3 linked regions of the Homo sapiens genome follow. The protein of the gene in region 2 interacts with the protein of the main gene of each other region in a biochemical or structural test. Each region holds a gene or a part of one and is shown on either strand. Other genes may lie near its edges.

The links.
Region 1: the proteins of DLST (region 2) and OGDH form a complex in vitro, tested with the Homo sapiens proteins (one study listed by BioGRID).
Region 3: the proteins of DLST (region 2) and SIAH2 form a complex in vitro, tested with the Homo sapiens proteins (2 studies listed by BioGRID, with this or other methods).

What each region holds. Positions count from the first base shown.
Region 1 is NC_000007.14:44,700,511-44,704,260, reverse strand, and holds part of OGDH (2-oxoglutarate dehydrogenase complex component E1 isoform 1 precursor), read right to left. Parts: intron 2,719-3,750; coding exon 2,646-2,718; intron 1-2,645. UniProt on the Homo sapiens protein: 2-oxoglutarate dehydrogenase (E1o) component of the 2-oxoglutarate dehydrogenase complex (OGDHC). Participates in the first step, rate limiting for the overall conversion of 2-oxoglutarate to succinyl-CoA and CO(2) catalyzed by the whole OGDHC.
Region 2 is NC_000014.9:74,891,820-74,895,569, forward strand, and holds part of DLST (dihydrolipoyllysine-residue succinyltransferase component of 2-oxoglutarate dehydrogenase complex, mitochondrial isoform 1 precursor), read left to right. Parts: exon of another isoform or gene 1-239; intron 240-1,014; coding exon 1,015-1,167; intron 1,168-1,528; coding exon 1,529-1,605; intron 1,606-2,492; coding exon 2,493-2,590; intron 2,591-3,750. UniProt on the Homo sapiens protein: Dihydrolipoamide succinyltransferase (E2) component of the 2-oxoglutarate dehydrogenase complex. The 2-oxoglutarate dehydrogenase complex catalyzes the overall conversion of 2-oxoglutarate to succinyl-CoA and CO(2).
Region 3 is NC_000003.12:150,756,482-150,760,231, forward strand, and holds part of SIAH2 (E3 ubiquitin-protein ligase SIAH2), read right to left. Parts: intron 1-3,750. UniProt on the Homo sapiens protein: E3 ubiquitin-protein ligase that mediates ubiquitination and subsequent proteasomal degradation of target proteins.

The sequences.
Region 1 (3,750 bases), on a different chromosome or scaffold from region 2:
CATCTCACACCCATTAAGATGGCTACTATGAAAAAACCAGAAAATAGTAGGTGCTGATGAGGATGTAGAGATGGTGGGATCCTCATATACTGTTGGTGGGATGTAAAATGCAGCCACTGTGGAAAGTTTGGCAGTTCCTCAAAAAACTAAAAATAGAATTACCATATGGTCCAGCAATTCCACTTCTGAGTACATATTCAAAAGAACTGAAAGCAGGGACTCAAAGAAATATTTGTACACCAATGTTCATAGCAGCTCCTCTAATCATAATAGCTGAAACATGGAAGCAACCCAAGTGTCCATCGACAGATGAATGGATGAGCAAAATGTGGCATACACATATAATGGAGTATTATTCAGTCTTTTTTTTTTTTTGAGACGGAGTTTCGCTCTTGTTGTCCAGGCTGGAGTGCAACGGCGTGATCTTGGCTCACCACAACCTCTGCCTCCCATGTTCAAGTGATTCTCCTGCCTCAGCCTCCTGAGTAGCTGGGATTACAGGTATGCGCCACCACCCCCGGCTAGTTTATTTATTTATTTTTTTTGAGACGGAGTCTCTGTCACCCAGGCTGGAATGCAGTGGCGCAATCTTGGCTCACTGCAACCTCTGCCTCCCAGGTTCAAGCAATTCTCCTGCCTCAGCATCCTGAGTAGCTGGGATTACGGGTGCGCGCCACCATGCCCAGCTAATTTTTGTATTTTTCGTAGAGATGGGGTTTCATCATATTGGTCAAGCTGGTCTCAAATTCGTGACCTCAAGTGATCGACCTGCCTCAGCCTCCCAAAGTGCTGAGATTACAGGTGTAAGCCACTGGGCCCAGCCTATTCAGTCTTTTTTGTTTTGTTTTGTTTTGAGATGGAGTCCTACTCTGTTGCCCAGGCTGTAGTGCAGTGGTGCAATCTCAGCTCACTGCAACCTCTGCCTCCCGGGTTCAAGCAATTCTCCTGCCTTAGCCTCCAGAGTAGCAGGGCGTGCACCACCACACCCTGCTAATTTTTGTATTTTTAATAGAGACGGGGTTTCACCCTGTTGGCCAGGCTCGTCTCAAACTTGTGACCTCAAGTGATCCACCTGCCTCGAACTCCCAAAGTGCTGGGATTATAGGCATGAGCCACCATGCCTGGCTATTCAGTCTTAAAAAAAAAGAAATTCTGACACATGCTACACAACATGGATGGACCTCGCAGACATTATACTAAATGAAACAAGCCAGTCGCAAGGGACAAAGACTGTATGATTTCACTTATGAGTTCCATAGAGTAGTCAAATTTATAGAGGCAGTAACACACTGAACTGGATACTTAAAAATGGTCAAAATGGTAAATTTTATGTTGTGTATTTTACCATAATAAAAAAAGACTGGGGGCTGGGCATGGTGGCTCATGCCTGTAATCCCAGCACTTTAGGAGGCCAAGATGGGTGGATCATGAGGTCAGGAGATTGACACCATCCTGGCTAACACGGTGAAACCCCGTCTCTACTAAAAATACAAAAACAAAATTAGCCAGGCGTGGTGGCGGGCGCCTGCAGTCCCAGCTACTTGGGAGGCTGAGGTGGGAGAATGGCGTGAACCCGGGAGGTGGAGCTTGCAGTGAGTCGAGATTGTGCCACCACACTCCAGCCTGAGCGATAGAGCGAGACTCCGTCTCAAAAATAAATAAATAAATAAATAAATAAAATTAAAAATAAAAAAAGATTGGGAAAAAACCCCCAAAAAACAAGGGGCTCACCTTGATTGAAGACTAAAGGGGGTTTGGTGACTGGTGGGATGCAGGCTTCCTGGCCTGGTGACCCCTGGTGGGTGGTAAAGGCTGTGTCAACATCCTGCACTCCACTGTCCCTATAGAAATCTCAATGTTATGGGTCTCCCTTCACACAAGTGCAGCTGGCATGTGACTTGGCAGGACCTGCCGTCCAGTGTTTTTTTCTCTGTCCTGAAGGGCTTGCTTTGGGGCTGGGCCTCTGAGCCAGTGGTGAGCTGCCACTCACCTGCTGAAGGAGGCCGCAGGCAGCGGCACTAACCCTCAATCTTGGACATACTTAATTGCCTCTAGTGGAGTCCTTGGGGGCATTTGCAGGTGAGAGGCAACAGCTCCTGGGCTGCATGTTAAGACATGTCATTTGACCAACGTGAATGTAAGCTGTGACCTCCCTCATCTGGTATCATGGGACTTTTTTTTTTTTTTTTGTGCCGGAGTTTTGCTCTTATTGCCCAGGCTGGAGTGCAATGGCGTGATAGCAGCTCACTGCAACGTCCACCTCCTGGGTTCAAGCAATTCTCCTGCCTCAGCCTCCTGAGTAGCTGGGATTACAGACATGTGGCACTACGCCTGGCTAATTTTGTATTTTTAGTGGAGATGGCGTTTCTCCATGTTGGTCAGGCTAGTCTCGAACTCCCGACCTCAGGTGATCTGCCCTCGAACTCCTGACCTCAGATGATCTGCCTGCCTCGGCCTCCCAAAGTGCTGGGATTACAGGCGTGAGCCACTGTGCCCAGCCATGTATCACGGGTCTTTACAACCAAAAATCTGGCAAGAGCCAGTGAGAATCACAAATGTCAGTCCCATGAGCTGTAAAAGAGCAGCAGCAAAGAAGCCCCAAACATAGCTTCCCCCAAGGAAATGCCCATCTCCCTCACACCCACCTGGAAGCATCTCATCAAAGCTGGATCTGGCCTCGGGGTGGCGCAACAGGGATTTGGGGGTGAAGATAATTAACTGAAATACAGAACAATAGGCTCGTGAAGGATCAGATTCTGAAGATTCCAGAAGGAAGGTCAAAAGCAAGGCTACCCAAGCCTTGACCTTCAGGCCATGAAACACACCTGCCCTCCCACTCAACAGGAGCCTCAGGTCAGAAGAGGCAGAGAAGGAGGGAAAAGGAAAGATGACCAATTTCCCTGCTGTTCACCTCCCCTAGCTGGGTATCCACTCCTGGCAGGGCCCATCCCAGCCTGCTCGGACTCCCAATACTCCCTTCCCTGCTTCTCTGTACCTAGGAAAGAGCTCTGACCCTCTCCTTGGCAGTCTCAGAGCAAATGCACCCAAAGCCCATGTAAGGCTGTGACATGGCCCAGCACCAAGAAGCACCAGGGCTGTCCTGCCCTGTGGGCCCTTGGACTGCTGGGGACACTCCGAGCTGCAAGCCTCCACCCCATACTCCCACCCCCGCGGTATCCCAGGGCAGCAGGGCACTCCCTCGCTGTCCCCCACACTCCTTCCTTTTTTTTGTTTTTTGAGACGGAGTCTCGCTCTGTTGCCCAGGCTGGAGTGCAGTGGTGCGATCTCGGCTCACTGCCAGCTCCGCCTCCCGGGTTCACGCTATTCTCCTATTCTCCTGCCTCAGCCTCCTAAGTAGCTGGGACTGCAAGTGCCCGCTGTCATGCCCGGCTAATTTTTTTGTATTTTTTTTGGTAGAGACGGGGTTTCACTGTGCTAGCCAGGATGGTCTCCATCTCCTGACCTCATGATCCACCTGCCTCGGCCTCACAAAGTGCTGGGATTACAGGCGTGAGCCACCTCGCCCGGCCTCCTTCCTTTTTATGAATCACTTCTCCAACGTATCCCTCCACTCAACTTCTACTCACCCTTCAACACCCAGCTCAGGAGCCGCTCCCTGGGGACCCTGCACTCCCTTGGCCTCTGCCAGGGCTCACCTCTCTTCCAGAGCTCAGCACACCCCCTATGACCACCTGTTCAAACATCCGTCCTCCCCACCGGGCTGGGGCCTGCAGCCTATGTGATTGCTCC
Region 2 (3,750 bases):
TAAGGCAGATAGACCGCATGATTGAGGTTAGTCAGGCAAGACCAGAAGCTCAGAGTAGAAAACATGTATGGTAGAAGGCTGGGAAATAAGGTAGTCCTCCTGTTGCAGAAGTTTGTCTTAGCACTAACCCTGGATATAATGTCCAGATGGGTGAAAAACAGAAACAAACATTTCATTTAAAGTTGTGAGATTATTACTTGGCCACTTCAGTGATTTATGAGTCATCCTGGATGAAGTGCTTTCTTAAGCCTAAGTCAACCCTCGATGACTATTTTATTTTTTGAGATGGAGTTTCACTCTGTCGCCAGGCTGGAGTGCAGTGGCCTGATCTTGATTCACTACAACCTCCGCCTCCGGAGTTCAAGTGATTCTCCTGCCTCAGCCTGCCGAGTAGCTGGGACTATGGGCACATGCCACCACGCCCAGCTAATTTTTGTATTTTTGGTAGGGACGGGCTTTCACCATGTTGGCCAGGATGGTTTTGATCTGTTGACCTTGTGATCCGCCTGCCTTGGCCTCCCAAGGGGAGTAATCCCTTGGCCTGTAATCCTGGGATTACAGGCGTGAGCAACTGCACCCAGCCTATTTTTTAATAGTATTCTTGCATATATAATGTTAAAATAGAGGATGAAGAGTATCAGTAATTAGAAATATGTTTATGTATGCATTTCAATATTTTAAATTGCCTAGGTGTTTTTTTTTTTCCTTGGAAGTTTACATTTTCTTGGGCTTGATAGGTGCTTTGAAAGTACTTGCTGAATTTATTCAGTGGAAACCTGTGAAATTGGGAAGGGAGCTAAGTTGAGCCAGTTATCTGATGGACATTTAGGGACCCTGAGGACTAGAGAATAGTGCCTTATGTCATTGTGTGTGTGTCTCATAGTGCTTTGCATATTGCTGATACCCAGTAGACATTCGTTACTTGATTGGAGCTAGAGTTTTTGCCACTAAATTTTGCTTGGTTGCTTCTCATTTCAGACAGTGCCAGTGGCATATACTTTTCTTGTTTTTCAGCTGCTCCTGCTAAGGCCAAGCCGGCTGAAGCTCCTGCTGCTGCAGCCCCAAAAGCAGAACCTACAGCAGCGGCAGTTCCTCCCCCTGCAGCACCCATACCCACTCAGATGCCACCGGTGCCCTCGCCCTCACAGCCTCCTTCTGGCAAACCTGGTAGGCTTCCAACTCCCACATGTCATGTGGGAGAACATCTCGTCTAATATGTTCCTTCAAAGGGTAAACTCTAGACTGATGATGGTTCTGAACAGGCCAGGTTGGCTGCTTTGTAGAAAGAATTCTAGACTTTGTATCCAAAGGCCTGCTTTGCATCTCAGCTTTCTGTTACTAGCTGTGTGTCTTTAGGCTAGTCACTTAATTTATCTGAACAGATTGTTCATCTGTGAAGTTGGAGTGATACTAATATACCTCAGAATATCTTGAAGATTAAGTAACAGTACATATGAAAGCACTGGCACAAACTCAGCAGATGTTTCTTTCCTTGTCTGATGCAGCTTTATCCTCTTTTCATTTTCAGTGTCTGCAGTAAAACCCACTGTTGCCCCACCACTAGCTGAGCCAGGAGCTGGCAAAGGTCTGCGTTCAGAACATCGGGTAAGCCTCTGAGGACCACTTTCAGGAAAGAGGCAGGGGGCAGTGTTGAGATTAGTGGAGTATGGGTGTGGTGATGCCTACCTTTGAATGCCTGGCAGCTCATTCCCTCAACCTTGATAAAGGGAGTTTAGGATATAACTTCTTCATAGTCACATAACCATCAAATGATAGGACTAGAACCTGAGGTCTTCTGAACACTTGTTCAGTGGTTTTCCTACTATATTATGCTACCAGTGAAAGCCTTGGGTAAGTTAAATATTTGTAGGGGTGGTAGCTTAGTAACTCACCCCCGTCCTCCCACGATGTCACACGCTTCAGAGAGGTGGTTTAGTGAGCTCTATTCCTATACTTCTGGGATACTTAGCTGTAGCTAAGGGATAATACTCAGTAGCAATAGCTGTCAGGTGCAGACATAAAGCCTCAAGGAAGTATGGTCAGGATTGTGGTTCCTCTGCCTGAGAATACTTCCTAAAAATATGATAGCCTCGAAAGTTTGTTGCTCATGAGGTTCTGTTCCACAAATAGCTATTCTTATGCAAATCTTTATCAACAGAAAGTGCCCTTTTTCTTATGATTCTTATGTTGGCTAGACTACACTACACTACATTCTTTTATAAATGGGTTTTGGTTTTTAAATCACTGTTTCTGAGCCTTCATTCTTGGTCAAGCTTTAGGCACATCTGAGTGAGTAGTTTTGGCCTGTGTTTGCATGTTTTTGCTTGGAGGAGAAAGGGCCACCACAGGAAAGGGAAGCCTGGAGCTCGTGTACTTAGATACTGTAGTCCTTGGCCATCTACTCGTGGCAAGCCGTGTTCTTTCTGACTACACGGGGAATGCTTGACCCAGAGAGATCAGATTGTCAATGCTTGTTCCACTCTTACTTTCAGGAGAAAATGAACAGGATGCGGCAGCGCATTGCTCAGCGTCTGAAGGAGGCCCAGAATACATGTGCAATGCTGACAACTTTTAATGAGATTGACATGAGGTAGTGTCTCTAGTCCCTCTTATCCCCTAGGCCCCTTTTTCTTAGAGAACACGAACTTGCCCCACTCCTTATCTAGTGCTGATTCTAAAACTAACTTGTCAGGGAAGAGGTATTTGTTTATTGTTTTTTGTTTGTTTGTTTTTGTTTTTGTTTTTTGAGATGGAGTCTCGCTGTCTCCCAGGCTGGAGTGCAGTGGCATGATCTCGGCTCACTGCAAGCTCCGCCTCCCGGGTTCACGCCATTCTCCTGCCTCAGCCTCCAGAGTAGCTGGGAATACAGGCGCCCCCCACCACGCCTGGCTAATTTTTTGTATTTTTTTAGTGGAGACGGGGTTTCACCGTGTTAGCCAGGATGGTCTCGATCTCCTGACCTCGTGATCTGCCCTTCTCGGCCTCCCAAAGTGCTGGGATTACAGGCGTGAGCCACCGCGCCTGGCCTGTTTATTGTTAACTTTCACAGAGTGAGCCGCTGGCTTCTTCTCTAATTGGCTTTCCTAATACTATGCCTGCCTCCTCCATGACCTTAACCTTAGCCTTGGCTAGGTGTAGTGGCTCACACCTGTAATCCTGGCACTTTGGGAGGCCGAGGCAGGCGGATTGCTTGAGTCCAGGAGTTCAAGACCAGCTGGGTAACAAGGCGAAACCCCACCTCTACAAAAAATACAAAAATTAGCCAGGTGTGGTGGTGCACATCTGTAGCCCCAGCTACTTGGGGGGCTGAGATGGGAGGATTGTTTGACCCCGTCACTTACATATTTTCCTAAGTGATTCAGAATCGAGTGGATGAAAAGGCAAAGATAGGCTGGGCTTGTCTTTCATTTTACCCAGCTCTGACAGTGAAATGGAAAACAAGTTGTGTTTTTAAATAACCTTAGAATGTTAACCAAAGGTACTAATTCACTAGGTATGCCCATTTCTGTAGTGAGCTAATTGTTGACTTACCTGTTTTCTTCAAGATTTCAATGTGTTCAAGTATCAGCACTGTCAGGAAGAGAAATTTGACAAACGTGTTTTGAGTGCGTACTGTATACAGAGTACTGTACTGTGGAATTCAGTGGGGATAGACGCTGGGCACCATGGCTCGTGCCTATAATCCCAGAGCTTTGGGAGGGTGAGGAAGGAGGATCGCTTGAGCTTAGGAGTTGGAAACCAGCCTGGGCA
Region 3 (3,750 bases), on a different chromosome or scaffold from region 2:
TTTTAATGGGGCTTCAAAAAACAGCTCTACCACAGAACGGGAGAGTCTATCCCAATCTTGGGCTGGTATTTTATAGGCCAGACCTGCTGTAACTTTTGGTAAGCCTCTGTTCTGGTTATACTAAGGCTCAACTTTCACTGATAACTATTTACTCTAGTTCCAGGTCATGGTGACCTGTGAAAAATCTTTGGCCAGTTATGTGTGGAATTACCATTAAGCTTAAGTACTGCCATATAGTATTCTAATGCTTCTGCTTTATACAAAAAGTAAACTACAACGAAAGGTGTATTATCAATTTTGTTCTTTAAAATCTTGAGCCCCGGAGTTAATGTATGTGGACTCTGGTCCTTGCCAGTTCACTCTGTGCTTTTATGGGCCAACCTTGCCCATGTCAGGCAGTAGTGAGGACTTCAGGGACAACTTCCAAAGTAAATAGTTTTGTGTTAGGAGAATTCTGGGGGTTAGGAAGAAATTTTTGAAAGTATTTTTGGCTAATCGGCTTGTGCTTCCTGCTTCCAGGTGATCCCCCATTGCAACCTTCCAACCACCCCAATACCCCCCATATTCCATTCCATATGGTGAAGCAAAAGCCCTCAACAGCACTTCTAATCTGATTTCCAAGCACCCACTAACTAGGCGTCATCTCCGTTCTTTCTAATGGATGAACAAACAGGGTCAGGGAAGTATGTGACTGGACCAAAGTCACACAAAGCCAGGACGAGAACCCAGGTCTTCTGTTTCCTGGCTCACGTTCTTTTCACTGGGACCGCTTACTATATTTTAAAATTTTAGGGTAAGAAAGAACCTTGGGATAATCATTTAGTCCAATCCCTTCTCTTAAAGACCCTCAGGTGCAAAAAAGAAACTGACCTGTATAGAGTCAAACATCTAGTCACAAGGCCATCATCTGAGGGTTCCTGATGGCCAGAAAATAATATTCTCTTGGCAAAATGAAGATGAAAAGAAAACAAGCTACAAAATCACCAACAGTTAGGGCCTAACAGAGTTCCAAAGTTCATGTATGGCAAGAGTTAAATGAGAACTTCCAGGCTCAAGGAATGCTTCTACAAGAGAATCAGATCAGAGGCTGCATGCTGGCAGCTGGAATTTGGCCTGGAGACGTGGTGGTTCGCTTTGTCTGCAAGTGGTGGTTATACATGTGAAGTCAGCCAATGCTAGAAAAAAAATCGAGATATTTAACATAAAAAAAAAATCCAGGCTGGGCACGGTGGCTCACACTTGTAATCCCAGCACTTTGGGGGGCCGAGATAGGAGGATTGCTTGAGCTCAGGAGTATCAAGACCAGCCTGGGCAACATAGTGAGATGACATCTCTTAAAGGAAAAAAAAAAGATCCAGATTTCTGGCTTTTCTTGAAAAAAATCTAAAGGTCTGATATGCCTGTACCCACATCCCCAACCCCACCAATCAGCCAGAGGTGAGTAAAGGCTGCCTCTTGGGAGGTGGCACCTGTTCTCTGGCTCTCCACCATCTCCACTGCTCCTCCAGGTCTCCCTGACCCTGAGGCCATGAGTGCATCAAATACTTCTCTCCTCTCCTCTCCTCTCATTACATGGCCCTCCTCCCATTTAGAAAGTTTGTCTCCACTGAACTAGATGAGGCCAAGGGATTTTAAACTTTCAACTGTTTTGTCTAACCTTACTTGGTTTTATGTTATTTTTTATTTTTTTAAGGAACACAGACATTGTCACAATTCAACCACAGAGAAGACTTGTCCAGCTGAGGCTTTCAAATTCAATAATTATTTGGAGATATGCTACTAGAAACTTTCAGAGAGGACAAAGAAAAGGTATCATTACAGTGTAAGAAGGCTGGAGTGGATTAGCATTGCTCACAGTTGTAGAGAGAAATACTTGGCTGATATCAAAATACATCGTTGGATGGTAAAGTAGACTATGTTGTTGATATGAATGTGTCAACCTTCACTTCTCCCCCTAAACCCACACACTGAAGGGGTGAGTTTAAGTCTGGGCACAGGATGTCAAAAGTTCTCAGGCATGGAACAAGCCACAGAATGGATTAAAAAATACCCCAAGCGGAAGAAAGCCATACACTATTAGACATTCCATTTTTTTTTTTTTTTTTTTGACACAGAGTCTTGCTCTGTCACCCAGGCTGGAGTGCAGTGGCACAATCTCAGCTCACTGCAACCTCCACCTCCTGGGTTCAAGCGATTCTCCTGCCGCAGCCTCCTGAGTAGCTGGGATTACAGGTGCCTGCCACCACACCTGGCTATTTTTTTTTTTTTTTTTTTTAATGAGACTGAGTTTCACTCTTGTTGCCCAGGCTGGAATGCAATGACGTGATCTTGGCTCACTGCAACCTCTGCCTCCCGGGTTCAAGCAATTCTCCTGCCTCAGTCTCCTGAGTAGCTGATATTACAGGCATGTGCCACCATGCCCAGCTAACTTTTTTGTATTTTTAGTAGAAACGGGGTTTCTCCATGTTGGTCAGGCTGGTCTCAAACTCCTGACCTCAGGTGATCCACCCACCTCAGCCTCCCAAAGTGCTGGGATTACAGACGTGAGCCACTGCGCCTGGCCCTAATTTTTGTATTTTTAGTAGAGACAGGGTTTCACTATGTTGTCCAGGCTGGTCTCGAACTCCTGACCTCAGGTGATCTGCTCACCTCTGCCTCCCAAAGTGCTGGGATTACAGGCATGAGTCACCACACCCAAAGATCTGAGCTAATAATGCATCCGGTTCCCCATATCAAAGGTGCTGGCAACACTCTAGCCTTTAATTAATTACCCTAAACCTAAGTGGGATAGTTATTTGGCAATACATCCATTTTTTTGCCAACTGAAGCAGTCCAGAGCTGTGATGATACCCCACAAAATACTAGGTTTGTAGGTTTCCCCCACCCTCCCATCTTCCTACCCTACATGCCCTACAAAATTCCTGCCAATGAATTTCATAGTGAGTATGTATGTTGTCATTTTGGGATGGTCCCATAAGAGGCCCATCTGGTGAACTCATCCAACCAGACGGTTTTGTTACTGGTGTCAACCTTGAGTTATGATTCAGAATCTTGAGTATACACTCAGATTCGAAATCCCTACGTAGTAAGGTGTAGGACAAAACATCTGTGCCTTTGAGATGCAGGTGCTTGGACTGGTCCTCTTACTAGCTGTGTGATTTGACAAGTCACTTCACATTTAACCACTCTGTAGGCATGAGTTTCCTCATCTGAAAAAAAAAAAAGGCAAACTAGTAAAAGCTGACCCCTGCAAAGTAACTGGCAGATAGAGGGCATCCAATAACATTCCAGATAGCCTCCCTTCTTTTCATAGAATGCTAGAAGCTACAGGTCCTTAGAAGTCAAGCAGATTCATCTCTCATTTGTATAGATGAGGAAATCAAGGCCCTGGGAGGTGGTCTTTCAGGCAAACAGTGGCAGCTCTTGAGATGTGGGCTCTGGTACTTTATTCAACGTTGGTTTTTTTCACATGAGCCAGCCCATGAGAGATTCTGAGAGCAGGTGGGGACAGTAAAAAGGCAGTCCCATAATTTCTAGGAGCCTCAAACTGTAGGCCAAAGGGCTAGGTAAACAGATCTGCCTTGTTTTAAGTTTGATACAGGCCTTACGGCTCTCTGTTGTTTCTCATCCTCTACAACTAACACATCTTGGTTGGTCGCTGGGCCTATGTATACATTCAAGTTTGGTTTATCCAGACTAACTGGCTGAGCTGCCCTGCCAATAGTTTGGATTATTGATCAACCAAAGGTG